Linked DNA regions of Homo sapiens: region 2 is linked to region 1. The links come from fine-mapping of genetic effects on gene expression. Tissue or cell type: whole blood. Region 1 holds a variant in brackets; the other region holds the start of a gene. All regions are shown on one strand. Distances are from middle to middle.

Region 1 (8,000 bases):
CTGGAGCCAGGCTCTCCTGCCCCACCAAGCATCTGAGTCCTGCCCTGCTCTCCCCAGGCTGCAGCTGCGACCTCAGGGGCACACTGGGTGGAGTTGCTGAGTGCCAGCCGGTGAGTCTGAGGACCAAGGTGTGGGGGATTTGGGGGCACACTGGTCAGGACCCTCCCCTGCCCCACTTCACCTCCTCCCTTGGCCCCCAGGGCACCGGCCAGTGCTTCTGCAAGCCCCACGTGTGCGGCCAGGCCTGCGCGTCCTGCAAGGATGGCTTCTTTGGACTGGATCAGGCTGACTATTTTGGCTGCCGCAGTGAGTGCCCACTCGCTCGTCCCAGACCACAGCCCTGCCTCCCCTCGGTTTATGCTGGGGAACCCAAGGCCCGGAGGGACAAGTGCAGCCTGGGCAGCATGAAGCCCGGGTGATGGATGGCTGCCCCTTGGTGCCAGCCTGTGCCAGGGTGTGGGAGAGGGGGTGCAGCTCCCACCCAGATGCGTGGCTTCCTCTCCCCTGTCCTACACCTGGGCAGACGGCACTAACAGATCCCAGCGCCCTCACCCTCGCCCTCGCCCTCGCCCTGAGCCCTGAGCCCTGAGCCCTGACTCTCCATCATCCAGAGAGCCCCAGGCAGGCTTCTCAGTCTGGCTGTGAGGGGCCCCTGAGGCTGGGTGGGGGCCAGGCAGCCTCTGACCTCCCACCTTCTCCCTGCAGGCTGCCGGTGTGACATTGGCGGTGCACTGGGCCAGAGCTGTGAACCGAGGACGGGCGTCTGCCGGTGCCGCCCCAACACCCAGGGCCCCACCTGCAGCGAGTGGGTACCCCTTCCCCACTGGGTGGTGGGGAGCGGGGCAGGCAGCTTGTCCTCCGGGCCTCTCCGTGTCCCTCACCATGGGCCCACGTGAGGCCTCACCCTCCCTGGAGACCCGGGGCCGCTGTGCAGGGCTAGGTAGGATGGCCAAGCTGCACCTGACCAGCCCCTGCTGTGGCCAGGCCTGCGAGGGACCACTACCTCCCGGACCTGCACCACCTGCGCCTGGAGCTGGAGGAGGCTGCCACACCTGAGGGTCACGCCGTGCGCTTTGGCTTCAACCCCCTCGAGTTCGAGAACTTCAGCTGGAGGGGCTACGCGCAGATGGCACCTGTCCAGGTGGGCGCTGTGCTCCCCCTCCCAGGCTCAGCCTAGAAGTGGAGCCAGGCGTGGCTGGCAGGGAGGGGTGGGCAGGCCCCTTGAAGGCCCAGGCCTCAGGCTGGCAGTGGTCAGGGAGAGTGACCCGACGCTCCATGCCCACCCAGCCCAGGATCGTGGCCAGGCTGAACCTGACCTCCCCTGACCTTTTCTGGCTCGTCTTCCGATACGTCAACCGGGGGGCCATGAGTGTGAGCGGGCGGGTCTCTGTGCGAGAGGAGGGCAGGTCGGCCACCTGCGCCAACTGTGAGTGGGGTCCCTGGGCCACAGCCCCTGCCCCACCAGCCCAGCCCACCCCACCCCACCCCACTCCCAAGCCCCGCCACCTTCCTCTGGCTCATGTGGGTGGTAGGACCAGCCTATCCCCAACCCTGTAGGGGGTGCAGCCTGGGGTGGCCCCAAGGGCTGGGCTCAGGAGTCTCACCCCTGCCCCCGCCCAGGCACAGCACAGAGTCAGCCCGTGGCCTTCCCACCCAGCACGGAGCCTGCCTTCATCACCGTGCCCCAGAGGGGCTTCGGAGAGCCCTTTGTGCTGAACCCTGGCACCTGGGCCCTGCGTGTGGAGGCCGAAGGGGTGCTCCTGGTGAGGCAGGGGCCAGAGTGAGGGCTGGGGGCCGGGTCAGGGGGTGGGGCCCACCACTCTCAGCACCACCTCCACCCTGCAGGACTACGTGGTTCTGCTGCCTAGCGCATACTACGAGGCGGCGCTCCTGCAGCTGCGGGTGACTGAGGCCTGCACATACCGTCCCTCTGCCCAGCAGTCTGGCGACAAGTGAGGGCCATGCGTGCGGTGGGACCGGGGTGGGGGCTTCCTGGACCCCCACTGTGCCTGGCTTCCCCCACTCAGGCTGTCTCTGGGGACCTGGGTGGACCTGGGGCTGACCACGGCCTGTGTCCCCCCAGCTGCCTCCTCTACACACACCTCCCCCTGGATGGCTTCCCCTCGGCCGCCGGGCTGGAGGCCCTGTGTCGCCAGGACAACAGCCTGCCCCGGCCCTGCCCCACGGAGCAGCTCAGCCCGTCGCACCCGCCACTGATCACCTGCACGGGCAGTGATGTGCGTGTCCTGGGACCCCACGGAGCAATGGGTGTTGCAGGACCTTGGCCTGGGGGCTGGGGGTCCTGTGGCGGTGGCAGGTTATAGGAGCAGGGCGCTGCCTCAGGCAATGGAGCCCAGCACCCAGGCAGGGCGCCCCTGCCTCCTGCCTCCTGCCTCCTGCATGTGTGACCTCAGTGCCTGTCTGTATGTAGGATTGGCTGTGGCCTCCACATACAGCTCAGCCCCCACCACTTGCCTGGAGATGTCCGGGCCAGGGTGGGACTCGGCTGAAGGGCAGGCCCTGGGGTCAGGGAGGCGCTGGAGTGGGAGGGGAGGGAGGTGGGAAGGGCGAGGGGTGGCGGGCCTCCCGTCACCCTGCCTTCCCTGCAGGTGGACGTCCAGCTTCAAGTGGCAGTGCCACAGCCAGGCCGCTATGCCCTAGTGGTGGAGTACGCCAATGAGGATGCCCGCCAGGAGGTGGGCGTGGCCGTGCACACCCCACAGCGGGCCCCCCAGCAGGGGCTGCTCTCCCTGCACCCCTGCCTGTACAGGTGAGTGGGAGCCGGTGGGGCTGGAGTAAGGGCACGCCCGGGGCTGCCCCACCTGCTGACCACCCTCCCCCCACAGCACCCTGTGCCGGGGCACTGCCCGGGATACCCAGGACCACCTGGCTGTCTTCCACCTGGACTCGGAGGCCAGCGTGAGGCTCACAGCCGAACAGGCACGCTTCTTCCTGGTAAGGACCCCTCAGGTCCCCACCCCAAGGGGTCAGCTTCTTTCAGAAGATTTGAAACATGCATGAGAGGGGAGAGGACAGTTGGGGTCCCAGGTCCCCAAGGCGGCCACACTCGCTCATGCCCAGCCCAGCATGTTTCTTCTGGAACCCCTCCTGCAAGCGTTTTGTGGATTCAGTCCCTTTTGACGTACCCCCGAGCTGTTCCATGTGCTC[A/G]GGAAAGCACCTGCAGTCACAGCTCCCTGGCCCCAGGGCAGCCACCTCCTGGCACAGACAGCGTTGGTTGCCTGTTCTGGAACTTTCTTTTCTTTTTTTTTTTTTTTGAAATGGAGTCTCACTCTGTCGCCCAGGCTGGAGCGCAATGGCAAGATCTTGGCTCACTGCAACCTCCACCTCCTGGGTTCAAGCGATTCTCGTGCCTCAGTCTCCCAAGTACCTGAGACTATAGGCACTCACCACCACGCCTGGCTAATTTTCGTATTTTTAGGAGAGACAGGGTTTCACCATATTGGCCAGGCTATTCTCAAACTCCTGACCTCAGGTGATCCGCCCTCTTGGGCCTCCCAAAATGCTGGGATTACAGACAGGAGCCACCATACCTGGCCTGGCACTTTCTATAAATGCCACACAACATGTTCTGTGCAGCCGCGTCTCCCACCGTTGTGTCAGCGGATAAGTTGCCGTGTTCCGAGACACCAACCTCACATGGCCGCACGGAAAGGGAGCACCCATTTGCGGCTTGTGCCTGCTGAGTGCCTGCCTGGGTCAGGTCCTGGGAGAGCTGGGCCTGGCCCGGCCTGGTGGCACCAAGCAGCACTCGAGATAAGAGTGGGGGAACAGTGACGGATGGGAGGGCGAGGGGGAGGAAGAGGGCTATGGGAGGAGCCGCATAGGCCTGTGGGCCCAGGAACTGGCCAACACGCTGGTCTGCGGTTGGGGTTTGTGCAGCTGGAGGAGGAGCAAGGGCATCTTGGAAAGAGCAGGGCTCGGTCGGACGCCTGGGTTTGCAGTTTCCTGGGTCTGAGCTGTGTGACCGGCCCCCCCATCGTACCGCCTGCACCCCCCATCGTACCGCCTACACCCCCCCATCGTACCGCCTGCACCCCCCCCATCGTACCGCCTGCACTCCCCATCGTACCGCCTGCACCCCCCCATCGTACCGCCTGCACCCCCCCATCGTACCGCCTGCACCCCCTATCCTCCCCGCACCACGGGCGTTGCAGCATCTCGTCCCTCTGCCTGCAGCACGGGGTCACTCTGGTGCCCATTGAGGAGTTCAGCCCGGAGTTCGTGGAGCCCCGGGTCAGCTGCATCAGCAGCCACGGCGCCTTTGGCCCCAACAGGTAATGGCAGGTAATGGGGCTGGGAGGGGCGCGGCCGAGGGCCCGGCGGCAGGGCCGGCTCTGACTCACCCACTGTGCTCTCACCAGTGCCGCCTGTCTGCCCTCGCGCTTCCCAAAGCCGCCCCAGCCCATCATCCTCAGGGACTGCCAGGTGATCCCGCTGCCGCCCGGCCTCCCGCTGACCCACGCGCAGGATCTCACTCCAGCCATGTCCCCAGCTGGACCCCGACCTCGGCCCCCCACCGCTGTGGACCCTGATGCAGAGCCCACCCTGCTGCGTGAGCCCCAGGTGAGGGCCATAGTCTCTAGAGGGACGGGGGTGTCAGGGCAGGACTCCGGGTCCCAACCCAGGGCAGGTTGTCCAGGGGGCAGCAGGGGCTCATAGCTCAGCCTGCTCACTAGGGCCTATCCCTGCAGGCCACCGTGGTCTTCACCACCCATGTGCCCACGCTGGGCCGCTATGCCTTCCTGCTGCACGGCTACCAGCCAGCCCACCCCACCTTCCCCGTGGAAGTCCTCATCAACGCCGGCCGCGTGTGGCAGGGTGAGTGTCTGGTGTGGGGGGTGGAGAGGCTACCACACACGATGAGGCTGGAATGCCGGCGCCACAGCGTGGCCTGTGCTACCTGCTATGAGCGACAGGCAACATGACTCTGTCCTGCCATCAGTTCTCAAACTAGCTGCCCTTGCAGCCCGCAGCCCCTACCCGCCCGCTCCCGTTCCCAGAAAAGCCTGGGTCTCGCCTCTGTCTCGTGCGTTGGGAAGCCCCGTTGTGCTCCATGGCACGTGGCGAATTGAGGGCTTGCCCCAGGATGCCGCTGGCAGCACATGTGGCCCTGTGTGTTTGTCTGGTTCCTGGCTCGGCCAAGCCTGGGGTCCCGCACATGGAGTTGACCGGTACCTAGAGGTGTCCCGCATGACATCTGTAGGTCATGATGCGGCCAACCCCCGTGACATGAGGGGCCGGCCTTGCAGACCTCTTGGGCACGTCCCGTGCCTGTGGCCGTTGGCCAGCGGGCACTCCTTGGCTGCCCCAACGCTGCCATCTTCAACCCTCTGGGTGTCTTGGGGGCGCTAGAGATGGGGGCCTGACCCTGCCTTTCTCCCCCGCCCAGGCCACGCCAACGCCAGCTTCTGTCCACATGGCTACGGCTGCCGCACCCTGGTGGTGTGTGAGGGCCAGGCCCTGCTGGACGTGACCCACAGCGAGCTCACTGTGACCGTGCGTGTGCCCAAGGGCCGGTGGCTCTGGCTGGTGAGTCCCAGCTGATGTCCTGCTCAGGGACCAGCTGTCCTTATACTTGTCATTACCACTGTGGTACACTTGGGCTGGGTCTGTCTCTTCTGGGCCTGCTGAGGCCTGGCCTTGTGCCCAGCAAAGCAGCTCCTGCCTTTGGGGACCTCCCGATCCACCTTGTGAGGCTCCAGAGGGGCCCTGGACCCTGCACCCTGCACCCTGCTGGTCAGGGTGGCCTTCCTGGAGGAGGTGGGGCCTCCAGGAAGGAGAGGGAAGAGGAAGGCGTGGCCAGCAGACAGAGATGTGGGAGACACCAGGAGGTCTCATGAATGCTGCTGCCTCCTCATGCCCCCGAAAGCTGCTGTTTGGCTTGGAGTGGCCTCCCCTGAGCAGCCAGGGCCCAGGGCTGGGCTGGGCTGGGCTGGGCTGCTGCTGCCAGGACTCTGAGCTGCCTGCAGGACCCTGGTCCCAGCCAGCCTCTGGGGGCCTCCCCGCTGCAGGCTCTGGGCCCGCGGGAGAGTGACCAGGCCTCACCCCCTAGGATTATGTACTCGTGGTCCCTGAGAACGTCTACAGCTTTGGCTACCTCCGGGAGGAGCCCCTGGATAAATCCTATGACTTCATCAGCCACTGCGCAGCCCAGGGCTACCACATCAGGTGGGCAGGGCTCTGGCAGGTCAGGGGTCCGGGGTGGGGGTCTGGGCCGGGAGCTGGCCTCACCACGTGCCCCTCCATGTAGCCCCAGCAGCTCATCCCTGTTCTGCCGAAACGCTGCTGCTTCCCTCTCCCTCTTCTATAACAACGGAGCCCGTCCATGTGGCTGCCACGAAGTAGGTGCTACAGGCCCCACGTGTGAGCCCTTCGGGGGCCAGTGTCCCTGCCATGCCCATGTCATTGGCCGTGACTGCTCCCGCTGTGCCACCGGATACTGGGGCTTCCCCAACTGCAGGCGTGAGTACCCCAGTCCTTGGGCGCCCAGTGGCAGGGAGTTGGTGCCAGAGCCCAAGGTGGACGGGTCGACCAGAAAGCAGGGTCAGGAGAATGTTCTAGAGCCTGGCAGGGCAGCATTGCTGCCCCATCTGCGGGCCTGGGCCCAGGACTCCAGCTTGCGGGCCATGCAGAAGGTTTCAGGGACCAGCAGGTGGTCCACAGTCTCTGACGATGATGTTGATTCTGAGCAGCTGCCTCCATGTCAGGAGCTGTCCAAGGCTCAGCACCCGGGGCAGGGGTCCCTGTTCTTGTCTCCCCCGCCCCCGTCACACTGCCACATCCCCTAGGGCTGCATTCTGGGCCTCTGAGAGGGGCGGGACTGGGAAGAGGGGTCAGTAAACCCTGTACCCGCCCCACAGCCTGTGACTGCGGTGCCCGCCTCTGTGACGAGCTCACGGGCCAGTGCATCTGCCCGCCACGCACCATCCCGCCCGACTGCCTGCTGTGCCAGCCCCAGACCTTTGGCTGCCACCCCCTGGTCGGCTGTGAGGAGTGTAACTGCTCAGGGCCCGGCATCCAGGAGCTCACAGACCCTACCTGTGACACAGACAGCGGCCAGTGCAAGTGAGAGCCCAGAGCGGCGTCAGCGCGGCCCCTGGTGGCCTTAAGGACAGCATTTCCTCTAGCCAGAGGGTCCTGGCACCCACCCTGCTCCCATTTGTGCTCCCTGGGTGCAGCAGCGCCCTCTCCTCCACTTCTGGGAGGATGCTGCCTGGGTGGGGGGTGCCTACGAGGTCTCACTTTGGTGTGAGTGACCTGGGGTGGAGGGGGCTCAGCTCCCGCCCCTGCCACAGGTGCAGACCCAACGTGACTGGGCGCCGCTGTGATACCTGCTCTCCGGGCTTCCATGGCTACCCCCGCTGCCGCCCCTGTGACTGTCACGAGGCGGGCACTGCGCCTGGCGTGTGTGACCCCCTCACAGGGCAGTGCTACTGTAAGGTGAGTGAGGGCTGGGCCCAGATCTGGCCTCTCCCTCCGGCCTCATCAGCTGAAAGTGTCCTTACGGGCCTTTCGGGGCAGCTGGGGCTTCCTAGAAGCTTTTGGGAGAGTCATCCCCATTGGCAGGTGGGTACCAGGAACCCGGGGTCAGGCACCTGGCACCTGCCGACCACTCTCACTGTCCTCTCATCCCTAGGAGAACGTGCAGGGCCCCAAATGTGACCAGTGCAGCCTTGGGACCTTCTCACTGGATGCTGCCAACCCCAAAGGTTGCACCCGCTGCTTCTGCTTTGGGGCCACGGAGCGCTGCCGGAGCTCGTCCTACACCCGCCAGGAGGTGCGCCTGCAGGACTGAGGGCATTGCCTTCTCGGGGAGGTCTTAGGTGGGACTGGATGCAAGATGGGGCCCTGTGATGTGTGGGCATCCACCCGTGTGCAGCCACACGTGTGTGCCCACAGTTCGTGGATATGGAGGGATGGGTGCTGCTGAGCACTGACCGGCAGGTGGTGCCCCACGAGCGGCAGCCAGGGACGGAGAT
Region 2 (8,000 bases), 37 kb before region 1:
ATCTGGGGGCAGGAGTCCTGGACTCTGCCTCACACCCCAGCAAGGTGCTGGGAGGTGCCCTGACAGGGGCCCCCACTTGAGGGAGGGGATGGGTTGGGGTCCTGGGAGCAACCTTGTTACTGGACCGGCCCCTTCCCTGCCAAGTTGTAGGTGGTTAGATCCCAGGGAGGTCCCGGGCCCCCTCCCTGGGAGTTCCCAGGGCCCCCTACTCCTTCCCTCCTAAAGGCTGGCAGGGTGGAGGCTCCCCTACACCCAGCTACACAGGCCCAGGCCGGGGCAGGGGCATCCAGGTGGGATCCTGGACTCTGGACTTTCGGTCGCCACGCAGACCACCCCACAGAGCTCCATGAGGCCCCCCCATTTCTGAGCACCCCAGGTTTGCCTGCTTGTCATGGGGCTGGGCCCGCCTGCACAGGGCACCAGCCCAAGCGCTTCTCCTTGCCACTTGGGAAGAAAAGGAGCTGGGTGGGCAAGAGGAGCCTCGGGGAGCATCTGTGGAGAGCCCAAGGAGCCCGGATGCTGACCCTCTCCAGATCTCCGACACTGGGCACCACCTAAGCCTGTCTGCACCCCCTCTGGCATGGGGGCCCACCTGAAACCCCCCAGGTGTGAACCCAGTGGCAGCCTTTGGGTCGGGCCTCGGGGAGTGGGCAGGCGTGAGGCATGTCACCTGCACGGGTGACTTGTCTCCTGGAGCCCTAAGGCGGTGGCCATGCTCCTGGCATGGTGCCTGGCCTGGAAGGCTTTGAAGAGCCCCAAGTCTGTGGAGGGCCTGCCCCGTGAGTGGTGCCTGGGGCTGCGTGGCCTGTGAGCTGGGCACACACAGCAAGTGGCAGAGGGGCCAGGGGCCAGGCAGCGGTGGGTCAGAGTCCTTCATTCCTGGTTAGTGTCAACCCGGAGCCTGGTCTCTGTGCTTTCCAACAACCACATGTCCCAGAGGCCGTCAGGAGCCCAGCAGTGGCCCAGCTGGGGTCACAGCCAGGGAGGAAAAAGCACCACTCCTTCCAAACGGGCTGTTTCCAGACCCTGCCTAGGCCAGGAAGGCCGGACTATCCCTTGGCCCCATCCTTCTGGCAGCAGGAACCTGCAGACCCTCGGAGGCTGGAGGCAGGTGGCAGCCCTGGGGGAAGGCGGGCTCCAGGCCTGGGGGAGGGGTCTGGCTATGGCTCAGGGTCTTCCTGGGCTCTGCCTCCATTCCTTTGAGGCCAGCCCCCCAGGGTCTGCAACTCCGGGCTGGCTCTTACAGCAGTCTGTCCAGGCTGAGGGCAGTGGGGGCCTCCTAGGCCAAGAGGCCCAGAAGCTCTCCCAGTCCGCTGGGTTTATGCAATCCTGATGAGACCTTGTCTTCCCGGCACCTGCTGTTCTGTGTCCTCCTCCCAGAGGACTGAGCTGGCCCACGCGAACAGTTCAGAACCAGCCTTGCTGCCCGCTCCCAGCTTCTCTATTTCATGGACAGGGATGGAGGTTCTTACCAGCCGGCTCCACGGAAGGGCATCCCAGCAGCCCTGAGAAAGGGACTGTGGCCTCCGATATCCCAAACCACAGCGCTGGCGTTCCTCCAGACCTCATCCCGCTGAGACAACATTCCCAGTTCTGGAGTGGGAGCCACAAGGCCTCACCCGCAGGCCCGGCCCTAGCAGGAGCCCAGCCTCCAGCCCTCCTTCTTGCTCAGCCCCCGCTTCCTCTTGGGGGCTTCTCCCGAGGGTACAGCACCCACTTGGACCCTGGGCTCTGGGACAGGAGGGTCTGCAGAGTCATCTGTTACTGATTGTGGCTGCCTGTGATGCAGCTGAGTGTGGGCGTGGGGGTGCCCCATGTCCTCAGCACAGCGGTGTCCCCAGGAGGCTCCCAAGGTCAGGAGTTCACGACTCACGGCTGAGTCAGATGTGCCTGTGGCCTACCCTCAGGGTCCCCCACAGCTGCCTGCAGGTGTGGCCGAGTAGGGTGGGGGCATTCTCAGGAATGCCACTGGAGTAGCACTGGGGGCTCAGGTGAGGTGGCTGCCCCCAGGGCTCCGCAGCAGACCTTGTCCCAGGGCTGGGGGAGGATCTGAGACCCCTTCCCCAGGGCCAGGAGTGCCCCTACTTCTCTCGGGCTGCCACTGACCCCTGCCCCCGACCCACCTCCTCTGGGGCTCCATCACCCTGGAGCTGGGTGGGCAGGGGCTCTGGATCTTGGATTGTCCCTGGAGGGCAGCCAGAGCCTGGTGGGACAGAGGCTCCTCCACGGCCCTCCCCTGGCGAGCCACCTCCTTTTACCCTCCCCTCCACTCCCAGACTGGGCAGCTCCCTCCTGTGGATTCAGGACAGGACGTGTTTGGGGGTGGGGTGCCGTCTGACCTGTTGCAGGGAGGAGGACTACGTCACGGGCGGGTGCCCGAAAGATGCCCAGTAAATAGGAGTAAGAAATGAATGATGGACAAACTTCCTCTTGCTTTACTAACTTGTGTGCTCTTGATTGACCCTGGCCTTTTTGGCCTCAGTTTCCCCATTTGTAAATAGAAGAGGTGGCTGGGCTGCGCAGGACTCAGAAAGACAAGGAGACAGGCTCGCTGGTCCATTTGGTGATGACTCACTGGAACCATGACAAAGACAGCAGGGGTGGGGGTGTGCAGAGATGAGCTGCCCCTCTCCCTGCTCACCTCCCCAACCCCCTGTGTGTAGCCCGGCTGGGACAGCCCCCCCGCCCTCCATACGCTCAGCTCCTGCCCCAGCTGCCTCCTTCCCAGTCCGTGCACCAGCAGACACAGGGTGGGGGCAGAGTGTGGGCTCTTTACCCAGCCCCTGGGCCACATTCTCTTGTCCACTGCGCTGCCCGCCTGCCTGCCAGTTGCTCCCGGGGCAGCTGTCTGCCGGGAAGCAGTGAGCCCGGTGATTAACCCTGCTGGTGCTGGCAGCTCCGGCTGACACAGCGCATTCTCAGGGCCGGCCCCCGCTCCCCTCCTGGCCAGTGCCGGGGGACAGCGGAGGCCTGGCAGCTTGGCCTGATCTGGCCGCTAGGAGGCTTAAAGTGCTCTCCCCACCCCCACCTCTCCCCCTGCCCCGCCACTCGCAATCCCACCCCTCCAACCACCCGACCCTCCAGGGATCCCAAGAAGCCCTCAGGGTCTCAGGAGTCTCCACCTCCAGTCCCCCAGGCTGTCAGAGCCCCAAGCTGTCAAGGGGGAGCCCAGAGCCAGAGCACACTGCCTGGGGCCAAGCCCCCACCTGGGGACCCGCTACTGCCCAGAGGCCACTCTCTGCCTCACACGGGATCTAAAGCAGCTCAGAGCCGGACTCTGCGCCTGGACTGCAGATTCCTTGATGTCTCCGCCCCCTCTCCAGCCAGCCCCTCCCCCACTTGGAGCTTCTCCTGCCAAGGGGAGCCGCCTCCTCTCCCCCCTCCCCCAGGTGGGAGAACTAATAGTGAAGTTATGGAAGAATTGCCGGGCCGGAAAGTAGGAGGAGGGAGAGAGGGTCCCATCGCCCTCCCGACTCCGTAGAGAAAGGGCCATACACCCTCTTGGGATTTGAGATTTGCAGGAGGCCAGGGCGCCAGGAAGGTGTGCAAGGAGGTGCACCCTCCAGGGACAGCTGCTAGCTCAGAACCCCCACCAGAACCGGCTGGCCAGTGCCCCACAAACCCACCCAGCCCCCCGGGACTGTCCAGGGAACCCAGCGAGAGATGAGCCCCACAGCCCATCTGGGACCATGGCCCGCCCAGCTGGCCTGGCTCAGGGATGGGGGTTTGCTGCCAGCTCGGCAGCTGCAGCCCCACCCCGCCGCCACCCCCTCGGGGCTTCCCTGGAGGCAGATTTGGCCCCGGAGCCCAAGGGAAGTAGGAGACCCAGGGCCGCAGCCACCCAAAGGCAGACGAAGACCTGATCTCGGCCTCTAGGTCCTGTGCTGTTTGCCAGGCGTCCTCGAGCCGCCGATCGTGGCAGGAACGCGTGCGCGGCTGTGCAGCGGGTTGGAGGCCAGGCCGAGAGAGCTGGTGGAGTCCACCGGGCCCCGGAGCACAGGTGCTTCCAGGCACCCAGCAGGTGCTCAGCAGCTGTGACCAGAGCCCCCGACCTCCTTAAGAGCCAATTTGGCGGCTGTGGGGCCATGAGCACCGCCCCCGTCCTCTAAAGGGGGCTGCAGCTGCAGGCCAGTCCCTCCTGCCCCTATTTCCCTATCTGAGAGTATTTTTAAGCCCTGCTGGGGCAGGCGGGAGCCAGGCCGAGTTGAACCTGACCTGGCTGCCCCAGGAAGCAGGGGGTTCCCACCTAGGCTGCCCCGTTCCTCTGCAGATGGTCATTCGCGGGTGCAGAGGGCACCTTCCCGCAGCCAGCAGGACGGACGCTGTTGGGGGAGGAGCGGGGGCAGCCGAGTGGTGCACCCAAGTTAGGGGAACAAAGAGTGGGCCCCTGGGCTGGGAGGAGCTGGTGGGCGCTCTGGGGGCCAGGGCGTCGTGGGGAGCGCTAGGGTCCCACCCGGGACCCGGAGCTACGACCTGGGCTGGGGGCCCGGCGGCGCCGTCGTCCCACGGCCTGGCCCGAGGCCAGCAGGTGCCCCTTCCGGGAGGCGGCCGGGCCGGGGTCCGAAGGGTTAAGGCCGCCCGGCCGCCCCTCCCCCTCCTCTCTCCTTCCCCCCCCCACCCCGCCTCCCCGGACCTCTCCCCGGGGCTCGGGGCTCGGGCGCTCGGGCGGGCCGGGGCGGGGCCTGACGTCCGCGGGCGGAGCGAGCCCTGCCGGCCGCCTGGCTTCAGACCCGCCGGGCTCCCGCCGCGCGCGCTGTCCCTGGAGCTCGGGGACGCGGCCCGGAGCCGGGAAGATGGCGAAGCGGCTCTGCGCGGGGAGCGCACTGTGTGTTCGCGGCCCCCGGGGCCCCGCGCCGCTGCTGCTGGTCGGGCTGGCGCTGCTGGGCGCGGCGCGGGCGCGGGAGGAGGCGGGCGGCGGCTTCAGCCTGCACCCGCCCTACTTCAACCTGGCCGAGGGCGCCCGCATCGCCGCCTCCGCGACCTGCGGAGAGGAGGCCCCGGCGCGCGGCTCCCCGCGCCCCACCGAGGACCTTTACTGCAAGCTGGTAGGGGGCCCCGTGGCCGGCGGCGACCCCAACCAGACCATCCGGGTGAGCGCAGGGGCGGGCCGTGGGGCTTCCTCCCGGGGCACTCGGACCCGGAACACCGGCCCGACCCCAGGGGGAGCGCCGTGGCCCGGGGCGAGTCCAGGTGCGGACTCTCTGGTTCCGCATTTTGGGGGCCCAAGAAGGCACCCCGACCCGGCCGCTCCGTCTCGGCCGGGAAACTTCGCGTCCCTCCGGGAAGGCGGAATTAAAGTCCCCGGCATGGACCCGGGGGCGGCTGGGCGCCGGTCCAGTTCGACTGCGGTGACCGGGGCGGGAGGGGGGCCGGGCCCAGTCCCTGGCGGCCCCAAGTCCGGGATCCCGGGGAGGGCGGGACTTGGCCTCCGCCGCCTGCTGCCGGTGGGGAGGGGGCGCAGCTCCGCCCTACCCGGGACAGGCTGGAACCTGTTGGCCTCTGGATGGGGTGGGAGGGGCCAGCCACCTGAGGCTCCCACTAGCCCCTCTCGGAGGAGTCTAGGGACTCGAGGAGACCTCCAAAGTAGGGGAGGGCCAGCTGCGAAGTTTTGACTGGGGCTGGGAACACGTGGCTCCCAGGAGGGGCAGCATCTCTGCCCAGCAGGTGGTAGGGTCCGGGGGCTTCAGTCTCCCTGGGAGATGTGGGTTCAGGCCCTGAAGACCCCCTGGGGTGCATGTCCCCTCCCCAACAAGCCTTAAACCTGTAGGCGGGTTCTGTTGGTGGACTCCATGCATGGACACCTCACCTGAAAACCAAGGCTCTTGGGGCCCTGTAGACTTAGGTTGGGCCTGGGGTCAGCCTTGGGTGAGGAGCAGCAAAGTCAGCTCCAACGGCTCCCAACCGGCCGCTCTAGGCCCATTCCCCACCTCAGCCCCACCTTAGGGAGAGTCTAGGGGCCCTGAGGGCCTGTGTAACCTGAGCTGTCTCCTCCCTGGTACCTCTGCCTTCCCGGAAGGAGAGGCTGGGGCAGGGGCGAGTAGCTGGAGATTTGCTGGGTGGGGGCAGAGGGCCCTGGAGCAAGACGTTATGGGGATGAATGGAGGAGCCTGGGCTGGGCCCGCCCCCTCTGCCTGCCCCACCCCCTTGGCCCTGGTGGAGGGGGAAGGAGCCTCCCCAGGCTTCTGGGCTCACCGTTCTCTCCTTAAGCCCAGCACAGTCCTCTGAGATAGGAGGTCTCAAGCCCACACTTCAGATGGGGGATCTGAGCCCTGGAAAGCTGCTGACACCTGCTTGGAGCCCCCCAGCCAGAACAGGGTCCAGCGGGGGTTAGCTGTGGGAACCTGGGTGCCTCCTGGCTGCCCCCTTATCTGGTCAACTCAGAGGGGCCGGGTCTCAGGACGGAGGGCCTGTGACTGTCTCCTTACCTGCTGCCACACCTCACCACAGAGGGCCTGGCTGAGTGTCCCCAGCTGAGATTTTGCCGTTCTGGCAGGGGAGGCTCCAGGTGCCCTGTGAACCTCAGACCACCCCCCCACAGCCTGCCCATGCTGCGTGGCTGGGGGCCACAGGCCCCCTCTCAGATCTGTCTCCTCTGTGGGGGCTTATTACCCCCGTCTCGTGAGTAAAGGGCCAGCCTGTAGTCAACGCCCCTCTCCTCTGCCTCAGCTGTGTGGCTTCCCTCTGTCAGCCTCAAGCTGTCTTTAAAATGGGCACAGCGTGCTGGCCCCCCTCACCTGAGACTGTGAGCTTGGCCCGAGGAGCCTGGGAAGTGGCCACAGTTTCAGTGGCAGCTGTGGGCTGTGGTGCTCCATGCCTCAGAGCCAGCTTGGATGAGAAACCAGCCGGCCTCGCCCAGCTCATGTCTAGCAATAGAGGTGAACCCTTCGCTTCCAAAGTCTCGAGCTCTGAGCAGTGAGTGCCCGCTGAGGCTGCCAGATATGTAGAAAGATCAGCTGGTAGACGTGAGCTGGACGGGTATGACCTTGGATGCCTCCTTCATCTGAGAGCCGCGGGTCTGCTGACCGCCCTGGCCGCGGATTGGGCGTGTGAGAAGTCCTTGCCGGCCGGTCTGGAGTGGAGCTGCGGTTGGGGCAAGGCAGGCAGGCACAGGAGGTGCCCAGGCGATGAAGCCGCAGCTCCATCTGAGGGGGCTCACTAAGGCTATGGGGCCTGGGGCTGGGCAGTGTGTTCTCAAGGCTGCAGGCCAGGGGCTCTCAGGGACCCTCTGTAGGAGATGCACATTAGCTGGGCATCCCAGATGGGGGTCGGGGTGAACCCTGCTGGGCAGCTGGAGCAGGCAGAGGGCAGGGGGAGGTTGTGGCCCTCACAGCCCCAGGTGGGCATCAGGGGATCCCTGGCCGGCCCAGCCTGGGAAGGTGGGGACTGGGCAGCCAGGCCAGCATGGTGACTCATTGGAAGGGGAAGTCCTTATCGGCCCTTCTGCTGTTTCCTAGCTCTGTTCTCACGGGACCCTCCGCAGCGGAGGTGGGGGAGCCTGGTTTTCCCAACCCTGTCCTCTGTGGCTCAGTGAGTGGCCGAATGGGGACTGGAACTGCCTCCCAATAACTGGACCAACGCTGGCCCAGGCAGGGACTGAGCAGGTGCTTCCCTGACCTCCTGGAAGAGTAGAGGCTGACCCTTGACCCGCAACCTTCCACCCAGCTTCCCTCTGCTGCTCGTGTGTCTGGGAGGGTCTTGACCAGCAAGCAGCCTTCCCTGGGAGGTCCGGCTGTCCCAGCCAGAGGGCGCCGCCCACACCTACCTTCTCCAGGAGCCCCTGGCCCCACCCTGAGCAGGACCTGTGTGCGCCGTGCTGTCATTGAGCTCTTGAGTTTGGGGGCCACCATCAAAGCTTGCAGTGCGGCCTGCGGGTAGGGGTCGTGGCGCTTAACTGGGTGTCTTCAGTTGCTCTAGCCCCATCCACGAGAATGCTTAGGTGGTGAGCTGGGGACACAGCGGGAATAAGGAGGGTGTGGACCCTGCCACTGCAGAGCTCTGGG

The links. PIP is the estimated chance that this variant, and not a neighbour inherited with it, causes the effect.
Region 2: LAMA5 starts here. The variant in region 1 is fine-mapped to the expression of LAMA5 in whole blood (TOPMed, PIP above 0.99).

What each region holds. Positions count from the first base shown.
Region 1 is chr20:62,327,327-62,335,326 of GRCh38, reverse strand. It overlaps LAMA5 (laminin subunit alpha 5), which reads left to right. Exons shown (of 80, transcript NM_005560.6): 19 at 58-110; 20 at 201-306; 21 at 706-805; 22 at 985-1,141; 23 at 1,288-1,426; 24 at 1,621-1,763; 25 at 1,846-1,952; 26 at 2,084-2,237; 27 at 2,610-2,770; 28 at 2,847-2,955; 29 at 4,198-4,295; 30 at 4,383-4,584; 31 at 4,713-4,839; 32 at 5,411-5,550; 6 more. It overlaps MIR4758 (microRNA 4758), which reads left to right and starts at 2,770; the gene lies at 2,770-2,840. The variant A/G (reference allele first, on the strand shown) is at 3,169.
Region 2 is chr20:62,364,039-62,372,038 of GRCh38, reverse strand. LAMA5 (laminin subunit alpha 5) reads left to right here and starts at 4,727. Exons shown (of 80, transcript NM_005560.6): 1 at 4,727-5,090. The coding sequence starts at 4,794. RefSeq lists enhancers at 327-1,024, 2,425-3,124, 5,223-5,922, 6,621-7,320, 7,321-8,000 and silencers at 4,604-5,043, 7,372-7,666.